2 linked regions of the Homo sapiens genome follow. The protein of the gene in region 1 purifies or fractionates together with the protein of each later gene. This does not show direct contact. Each region holds a gene or a part of one and is shown on either strand. Other genes may lie near its edges.

Evidence for each region. The genes of interacting proteins can lie anywhere in the genome.
Region 2: the proteins of COBLL1 (region 1) and SCML1 purify together in Homo sapiens (affinity purification with mass spectrometry, with the first as the bait; one large-scale study listed by BioGRID). This does not show direct contact.

Annotation. Positions count from the first base shown.
Region 1 is NC_000002.12:164,702,324-164,705,823, forward strand, and holds part of COBLL1 (cordon-bleu protein-like 1), read right to left. Parts: intron 2,783-3,500; coding exon 2,629-2,782; intron 2,196-2,628; coding exon 2,121-2,195; intron 898-2,120; coding exon of another isoform or gene 781-897; intron 1-780.
Region 2 is NC_000023.11:17,735,993-17,740,292, forward strand, and holds the start of SCML1 (sex comb on midleg-like protein 1), read left to right. Parts: upstream 1-1,500; 5' UTR 1,501-1,688; exon of another isoform or gene 1,689-4,300. UniProt on the Homo sapiens protein: Putative Polycomb group (PcG) protein. PcG proteins act by forming multiprotein complexes, which are required to maintain the transcriptionally repressive state of homeotic genes throughout development.

The sequences.
Region 1 (3,500 bases):
GAGGCTGAGGAGGGCGGATCACAAGGTCAGGAGATCGAGACCATCCTGGCCAACATAGTGAAACCCCGTCTCTACTAAAAATACAAAAAAATTAGCCAGGTGTGGTGGCGGGCGCCTGTAGTCCCAGCTACTCAGCAAGCTGAGGCGGGAGAATGGCGTGAACCCAGGAGGTGGAGCTTGCAGTGAGCCGAGATCACGCCACTGCACTCCAGCCTGGGCAACAGTGAGACTCCTCAAAAAAAAAAAAAAAAAAATAATAATAATAATAATTTGAAAACTCTGTATTGAAAAAAAATGAAAGGCCATGATGGTTTAGATACAAATGTGTTTTTTAATTTTTATTATAAGGTCTTGCTTTGTCACCCAGGCTGGAGTTCAGTGGCATGATCATAGCTCACTGCTGTCTCAAAATTCAGGGCTCAAGCAATCTTCCACCTCAGCCTCATGAGTAGCTGGTATTTTAAGTGTGAGCCACCATGCCCAGCCTCAATTGTGTTTTCAAAGTGACCCCTCAGTATATATAAGCCAAATAGAAGAGAAGCTAAAATTCTTCGGAACCACTGATTTTATTTAACTAATCCACTCTGTTGTATTCATCTGTATGGTTGGGAAAAACAACAAACTCTACACCCAGATAAAATTTCAAGTGAAAAAGGGGAAACTTCTCTTTCTTTATAAAATATGTTTACACAAGGTTTCAATAGCTCATCAAATTTACAGTCGATGATATCTTAACCTGCCTGACACAAAGCACCAGCCAGGAAAGGCCTGACCACCTACATGTCAATGATGTTATGGCTGCCTCAGGTGTCCCAGGGCACTCAAAGACAGAGGTTTCCTCCATCAGTTTGGGCGCAGTGCACTGCTCCTGACTGGAAAGCCCAGGGTGAAAGGTTTCTGCCAAAGAAGTAGAATCTGTAGAAATGGCACTTAGACAACAGAGTTAAGGCAAGCAGAGACCAAGAAGCATTTTGGAAGAAATCAGATTTGTTAGCTCACAATTATCCATGCATTAAATAAGAAGAGGTAAAAGGAAAAAAACAAATGAAGAAAAACAGATATGAAGCAAAGTTTGAATAGCATGCACTCCTTTTTATAATATTTCAGTGACTTCTAATTTCACTCAACAGTTGTAATTGTTATTATTCAATACATTTCCTTTGTGGAAAAAAATGGTGCCATTTATATTATTCTGAGTAAAAGCTGAGAAAAATCATTACTAGTTATCTGAGAGTAAGATTTAAAATCACAGAGGAGTGAAGAATTCTTACATATATATGCTAAAATTCCAAATTCTTAAATACCACTTAAAGATGAAAGATTCAAGAGTGTTCCTCCTAAATGTTTCCTGTATTTGGAATATAAATTATAAAAATCAGGCGAGTCATATTAAGCATTTTTTATACTTACAGAATTATCCCCATGATAAAGTCCTAGCATAATCATATTCTATTTTTGGTATGATATTACTAGTCTATCACATTCATTGATGTCTAATAGTAACTCTAAAGATTAAAACATTTTTATCATACTTCTTAGAAAAGCTACTAAGTAGCTATTATTAAAAACACTGGAAAAGTATTACTATAAATTATGTAACTTGTAATGGAATTTTGTTTGGAAAGAATCCTAGAGGAGAGCCATATACTGCAACAGAAAACATTTTCATGGTAACAGATTTTTACCATTAGAGTAGGGTAACTTGTATGTTGAGTTCATACCTAGAACAGTTGCATCAAGAAATTGTGCTTACACTTTCCTGTAAGTTTTCTTCTGCACACACCAAGGTACATTCCTAATTACGGTGTGTCATTACACTTGGGAAGGAGGTTAATAAATGTTAACCTGATACTGCATAAAGGAAAGCAGGAGACCACATAGAAAAAGTACTCAAGGACAATTCCAGAACTGAAATTTTGATCTCTGCCAGCTTCATACTCTAATTGGGTTGAGGGGCAGAGGGGTGGGGGCAAGAATTTATTTCATAATAAAAATTTGGGAAATGAGGCCAAAGAATCTGTATCTCTTTCATGTACAAAGCATCGCAAATGGACTCATTTCTCAATTATCATGGACGTCCTTTTTCAGTAATTACACCATGTAGAATAAGGGTGTCATACCTGGGCTGGATAGCTCCTCAGGAGAGTTTGCTTCTGAAGCACTGTCTGGAGGAACTCCATCTACTGGCTGTAAGGCTAAAGGAAAGAAGCAACACAACTTATAAAGTCATATTCACAAATAAAACAATTCCTTAACAGTTTAACTTAGTTATATAGTTCAGAAAGCAGTAAGCCTTGCTAGAAGCCATTTTACTATCTAGCTGTAAAACACTAAAATCCACTTAGACTCCCTTTTCTACATACAGCTAATCCTGAAATGGCAGCATCTTTCTGAATAAATTCACAGATTATGACATGCTCATCTTAGGATAATGGAGCTGTATAATTTTGACACTTTATTTGGTGATGTTTCAGATTTTTAAACGGCAGCAAAGTGAGACTAATCAAGATGTATTTAAAAAGCCTAAGTATTATTTAAAAAGCATAACTTACATACCCATATCTTTCCTACTGTCCATATTAAACAAAACACAATACAAATGTAATGTTAATGAAACAACCACATTACCAGTCACACGACTATTTTCATCACTTTGATGCGGGGGTATTTTGGAGGGTGGGGAAGGTGCTTTTCGCTTTGTCCTTCTCAAAGATGAATTCCCTGCAGACATGCTGCTGAGCTGCAGTGAACCTGCCCTCACTCTTCCTGCTTCACAGGGACTCTGGAAAACAAAATGACCAAATAAAATCCTACATTTAGAAATCAGTAGCAAACTTTAGGAAGACACTGAACTTTACGTCAAGCACAGGATATATCCAAATGGAACATAACAGTCATTCCTTAAAAACGTTTATGAAGCATCTGCCACACACAGAAGCTGGGCTATGGGATAGATATGTAAAGAAAAATAAAATACGGCCTTTCTCAAGAAACTTGGGCTAGAATGGGAAACTGCCACACAAACAACTAACTGTAATGTAGAGGACTCATAAGTAACAGAGTTAAAACCTAACTTTTAAAGAAAAATCTGGAGACATTAAAAGGAAGGGATGAAAAAGGGAACATTATTTGTATAGTAGTATTTGGCTTGATTAAATCTACCTCTTTACAGCTGCAGTGTTTCAGTGAGGAACACTGCAAAAATCTATATGTCTACCTGAGGCCAGGTCCTTCAAGGTCACCTACTGCAAAGAGCTACTGCTCACACTCCTAGCCCGTGACTGTCAGCAGACCCTAAGACATCCTCCTTCAGCAGGGGTCAGTGCCTCCTGACCAAATGCCATGTCATCTTTGCTCTTTGCCTTTACCAAGAATGAATGAATGAATGAATGAACGAATAAATAACTATTTAAAAGAGTTGTTCAGGTGGCTCACACCTGTAATTCCAAAGTGTGGCTCACACACTTTGGAAGGCCAAGGTGGGCAGACCACCTGAGGTA
Region 2 (4,300 bases), on another chromosome or scaffold:
AACAACCGGTTTCTCTCTTCACTGTTACGTAATTGATTTCTTGGGGCTTCGCAACAGTGTTTTACAGGCAACAGGACATAAGGGCAGGGTCTGTTATGGCAAAAGTAGGAGCAAAAAGAACATAGACCAGCCTGTCCAACATGGTGAAACCCGTCTCTACTAAAAATACAAAAATTAGCTGGGCATGGTGGCAGACGCCTGTAATCCCAGCTACTCTGGAGGCTGAGGCAGGAGAATCGCTTGAACCCAGGAGGCAGAGGTTGCAGTGAGCCGAGATCACACCGCTACACTCCAGCCTGGGCAACAAGAGCAAAACTCCGTCTCAAACAAAAACAAAAACAAAAAAAAAACATATACTATATCTATAATGGGCTTTAATCTAGCTTCGTATTTGAGAGGAAAAATGATACATTTCCAACGTCCAGTATACTTTCTTTGTAGCTCCTCTCTGGGCCAAGAAAAGATGTATAGCTTTACTTTGAAATATCTGCCTGCTTTGCTTCTGATAATTACTCAGACTGTGTCTCCTTCCCAAGATGAGCAGCCTCGATATAAGTATGTAAGACTATATGCCACTAGATGATGTCACATAGCCTTTATTACAATAGCAAAATTCTATGCCAGGTACTGTTCTAAGTGCTTTGCATACATTAACTCATGTAGTCCCCATATTATACCCATTTTACAGATGGGGAAACCGAAGCACAAAGCGGTTACTTGGCTTGCCTAAGGCCATAGGAGGACTGTGTTGGAGCTGGGGGTCCAATCCAGTAAATCTGCCTTCAAGGTCTGCGTTAGTTCCCCAGTCCAACTTGTGGGTGCTGGAGACTGGAAATATCTTGCCCGCCCCCCACCCTGGCCCCCCTCGCCCTTCCTACCAGACCTGGCTCAGGGCAACTGCTAAGGCCCCGCCCCTCTCCTCATTCCAAGTCAATCACTGGCGTGCGTCCAGGAAACCCAGTTTACGACGACGTCTCTGGTGCGTCACAGAGCGCGGGGGAGGGGCGGGATCACATTAAAAAAAAAAAAAAGCTTCGGACACCCCAACAACGAAGGGGGGACACCACGTCCCTAACTACAACGCCACTAGAAGGGTTGCGCATGCGCGCCAGCCTCCTGCGCAGCCGCAGAAACCACTCAGCGCGCGAGTCTCTGAAAGGCCTAACGTCCATTTTCAATCCTGCGGGTCTTGCGAAGGAAAACCTGAGGTAAGAGGCCCCGCCCCACAGCCATCTCCTCAGCAAATTCCCGCCCTCGGCCCCGCCCCACAGCTATCTCCTCAGCAAATTCCCGCCCTCGGCCCCGCCCCACAGCCATCTCCTTAGCAAATTCCCGCCCTCACCCAAGGACTGGGAGAGCACCCGCGGATTGGCCGATCAACGGTGACGCCTGTCAGTGGCCAGACTCCGATTGGTCAGCGGGTAGTCCCGCCCCCCCCCCCCCCCCCCCCCCCCCCAACCGCGAGTGTGGGAATTCGGCGTCGCGGGAGCTCTCTGATCCACTCAGGGGTCAGGGCATCACTGGTCTCGCGTGCGCGTGACCAGGCCCGGTTTCCGGTGCCAGGACCTTTCCGAAGCGTCGAGTGGCCTAACGGTCACAGCTGTCGCCCATCGGAGAGGCAGGACTACTGCGAGCAGTTTTACCGCGACCTCCGGAGGCCGGCGTGACAGGCTCTGTCACTAAAATAGGTCTGTCCAGTCGTACTTTTTCCTCACCTTGAACTTTCCGTCACGGGAATACACGATTTGGCTTAGGGGCCGGGGCTCTCCTGAGGAGAGAGGGTTTGCTTTGCGGGGAAGAGCGAGTCTTGACTTCGCAGCCTCCAATTTCAGCCGCGGTGTGGAGGGGGGTGCTTTGGGTGGTCCCCACAGCCTTTCCGGAGTGCCCGCGCGTGTAAGCTTTTGAGATTTGACAATTTGTGAAGTGCTTGGTGCTGACTTTCGGGGACGACAGGATCCTTTTACAGTCATTCTCCTGTCAGGGGAGGCAGGTGGGGAGCGAGGAAGGATCCAGATTTCGTTAACAGAGCTTTGAGTTTAAAGAATTGACAAACTCCCGAGTTGATTTCCTGTCAGACCTTTTGCGGTTGAGACATAGAGTCTGAGGCTTTGATGGTAACCGCGTTTGATTTAGAGACAGACTGTGCAGCTTCGCTGTTTTATTGTAAATACGTAAATGAGGAGGAAGAGAAAAACGTAGGGTGTTGGGAGCAGAGGCGGGAGGCGGGAGATCCTGCGAAATCGGAGTCCCTTTGGAGTGGGGGAGGCCGTCGAGGCGTGCGAGGGCCCGGCCCCCTTGCCGCGTGGTCGTTAACAGGAAAGGCCCTGATTTGGTTGGTGGCGGATCGCGTCCCTCCCTCCTCTCCCCGGCTCTCCCCGAGTGCGGCAAACTGGCTTCAGGTTGACTAAAAGATAGCGATTTTCCAAGCAGCTTTGCCGCGCGGTGTTTTCTAAAGCGGGGCGTGGGCTGGGTGCCCTTTTGGGCCTCACTTGTCCGGCCTGCGGCAAGTGCTGGGCGATGGGATGCGGTTCTGGCGGCAAAGGAAGGGCTGCCTTTGAGAGTCCCGCAGGAAGGTTTAGAAAGTGATTGTTCTTAAAACAAACAGAGCGTTTTGCTGTGTGTTCCTCAAAGTGGTCCCGGTGGGAGTGGCGCCTCATTGTGAGCTGTGCCTTATCTGATGAATTAATGGCAGGTGAAAGCCTTGCGCCTCCGGAGCGAATATTTACGACTTTTGAAAATGTCTTTAATGTCTAAAAAAAGTCTTTTAGAAAATCAGACGGCCTCTTGTTCTTATGTTATCAAGAGTTTAGATTTCTGTGGTAAATATAAGTGAGTTTCATTTTAAGTAAACTCATTTTACGAGATTTGAGATTTGAAAGTGAAATTAATTAATTTTGCACAATCTAGCCTTGGGCTCTGAGAAAATGTTGTAAAGCTGTAATTAATCTTGTGGGACGAAGTGAAAAGGAACTAAAGTGTATGGTGTAATGAATAGTTTAAATTTCTGTGGTAAATACAAGTGAGTTTCATTTTAAGTAAACTCATTTTTATGGGATTTGAGATTTAAAAGTGAAATTAATTAATTTCGCACAATCTAGTCATGGTTGGGCTCAGAAAATGTTGTAAAGTTGTGATTTATCTTATGGAAAGAAGTGAAAAGGAATTAAGGTATATGGTGTAATTAAGAGTTTAAATTTCTGTGGTAAATGCAAGTGAGTTTCATTTTAAGTAAACTCATTTTTACGGGATTTGAGATTTAAAAGTGAAATTAATTCATTTTGCACAGTGTAGTCATGGTTGGGCTCTGAGAAAATGTTGTAAAGCTGAAATTATTTATCTTGTGGGAAGAAGTGAGAAGAAACTAAAATGTGTGGTATTATCAAGAGTTTAGATTTCCGGGGTAAATATAAATGAGTTTCCTTTAAACTCATTTTTGTGGAATTTGAGGTTTAAAAGTGAAATTAATTTTGTAGAATCTAGTCATGGTTGGGCTCTGAGAAAATGTTGTAAAGCTGTAATTTATCTTGTGGGAAAAAGTGAAAAGGAACTTAAATTTATGGTGTTATCAAGAATTGGCCAGGCGCGGTGGCTCACACCTGTAATCCCAGCACTTTGGGAGGCCGAGGTGGGCAGATCACTTGAGGTCAGAAGTTCGGGACCAGCCTGGCCAACATGGTGAAACCCAGTCTTTACTAAAAGTACAAAAATTAACTGGGCATGGTGGTGCAAGCCTGTTACGCTAACTACTCGGGAGGCTGAGGGAGGAGAATTGCTTTAACCCGGGAGGCAGAGGTTGCAGTAAGCCGAGATCATGCCACTGCACTCCAGCCTGGGTGACAGAGTAAGACTCTGTCTCAAAAAAAAAAAAAAAAAAAAAAGAAATTTAGATTTCTGTGGTAAATATAAATGAGTTTCATTTTAAGTAAACTCATTTTGTGGGATTTGAGATTTAAAAATGAAATTAATTTTGCACATTCTAGTCATGGTTGGGCTCTAAGGCAATGTTGTAAAGCTGTAATTGTTTGCCTTATGGGAAGAAGTGAAAAGGAATTAAAATTTATGGTGTGTCTACTATGAACCAGGCATGATGCTGAGAGTTTAACTGTGTAATTTTTGGCCTAAATAGCCCTGTGAAGTAGATATTATTCCAACTTTACAGGTTAGAAAATTTGAGGCACAGAGAGGTGAAATATTTGCCTAAAGTGAAACGGCAAATTTGGCAATTTGGACTTGGATTCAAGTGTTTATAACTAAAGCCCAGCTCCTTGCATCATACCCTGGTACCTAAAAGACATAAAAA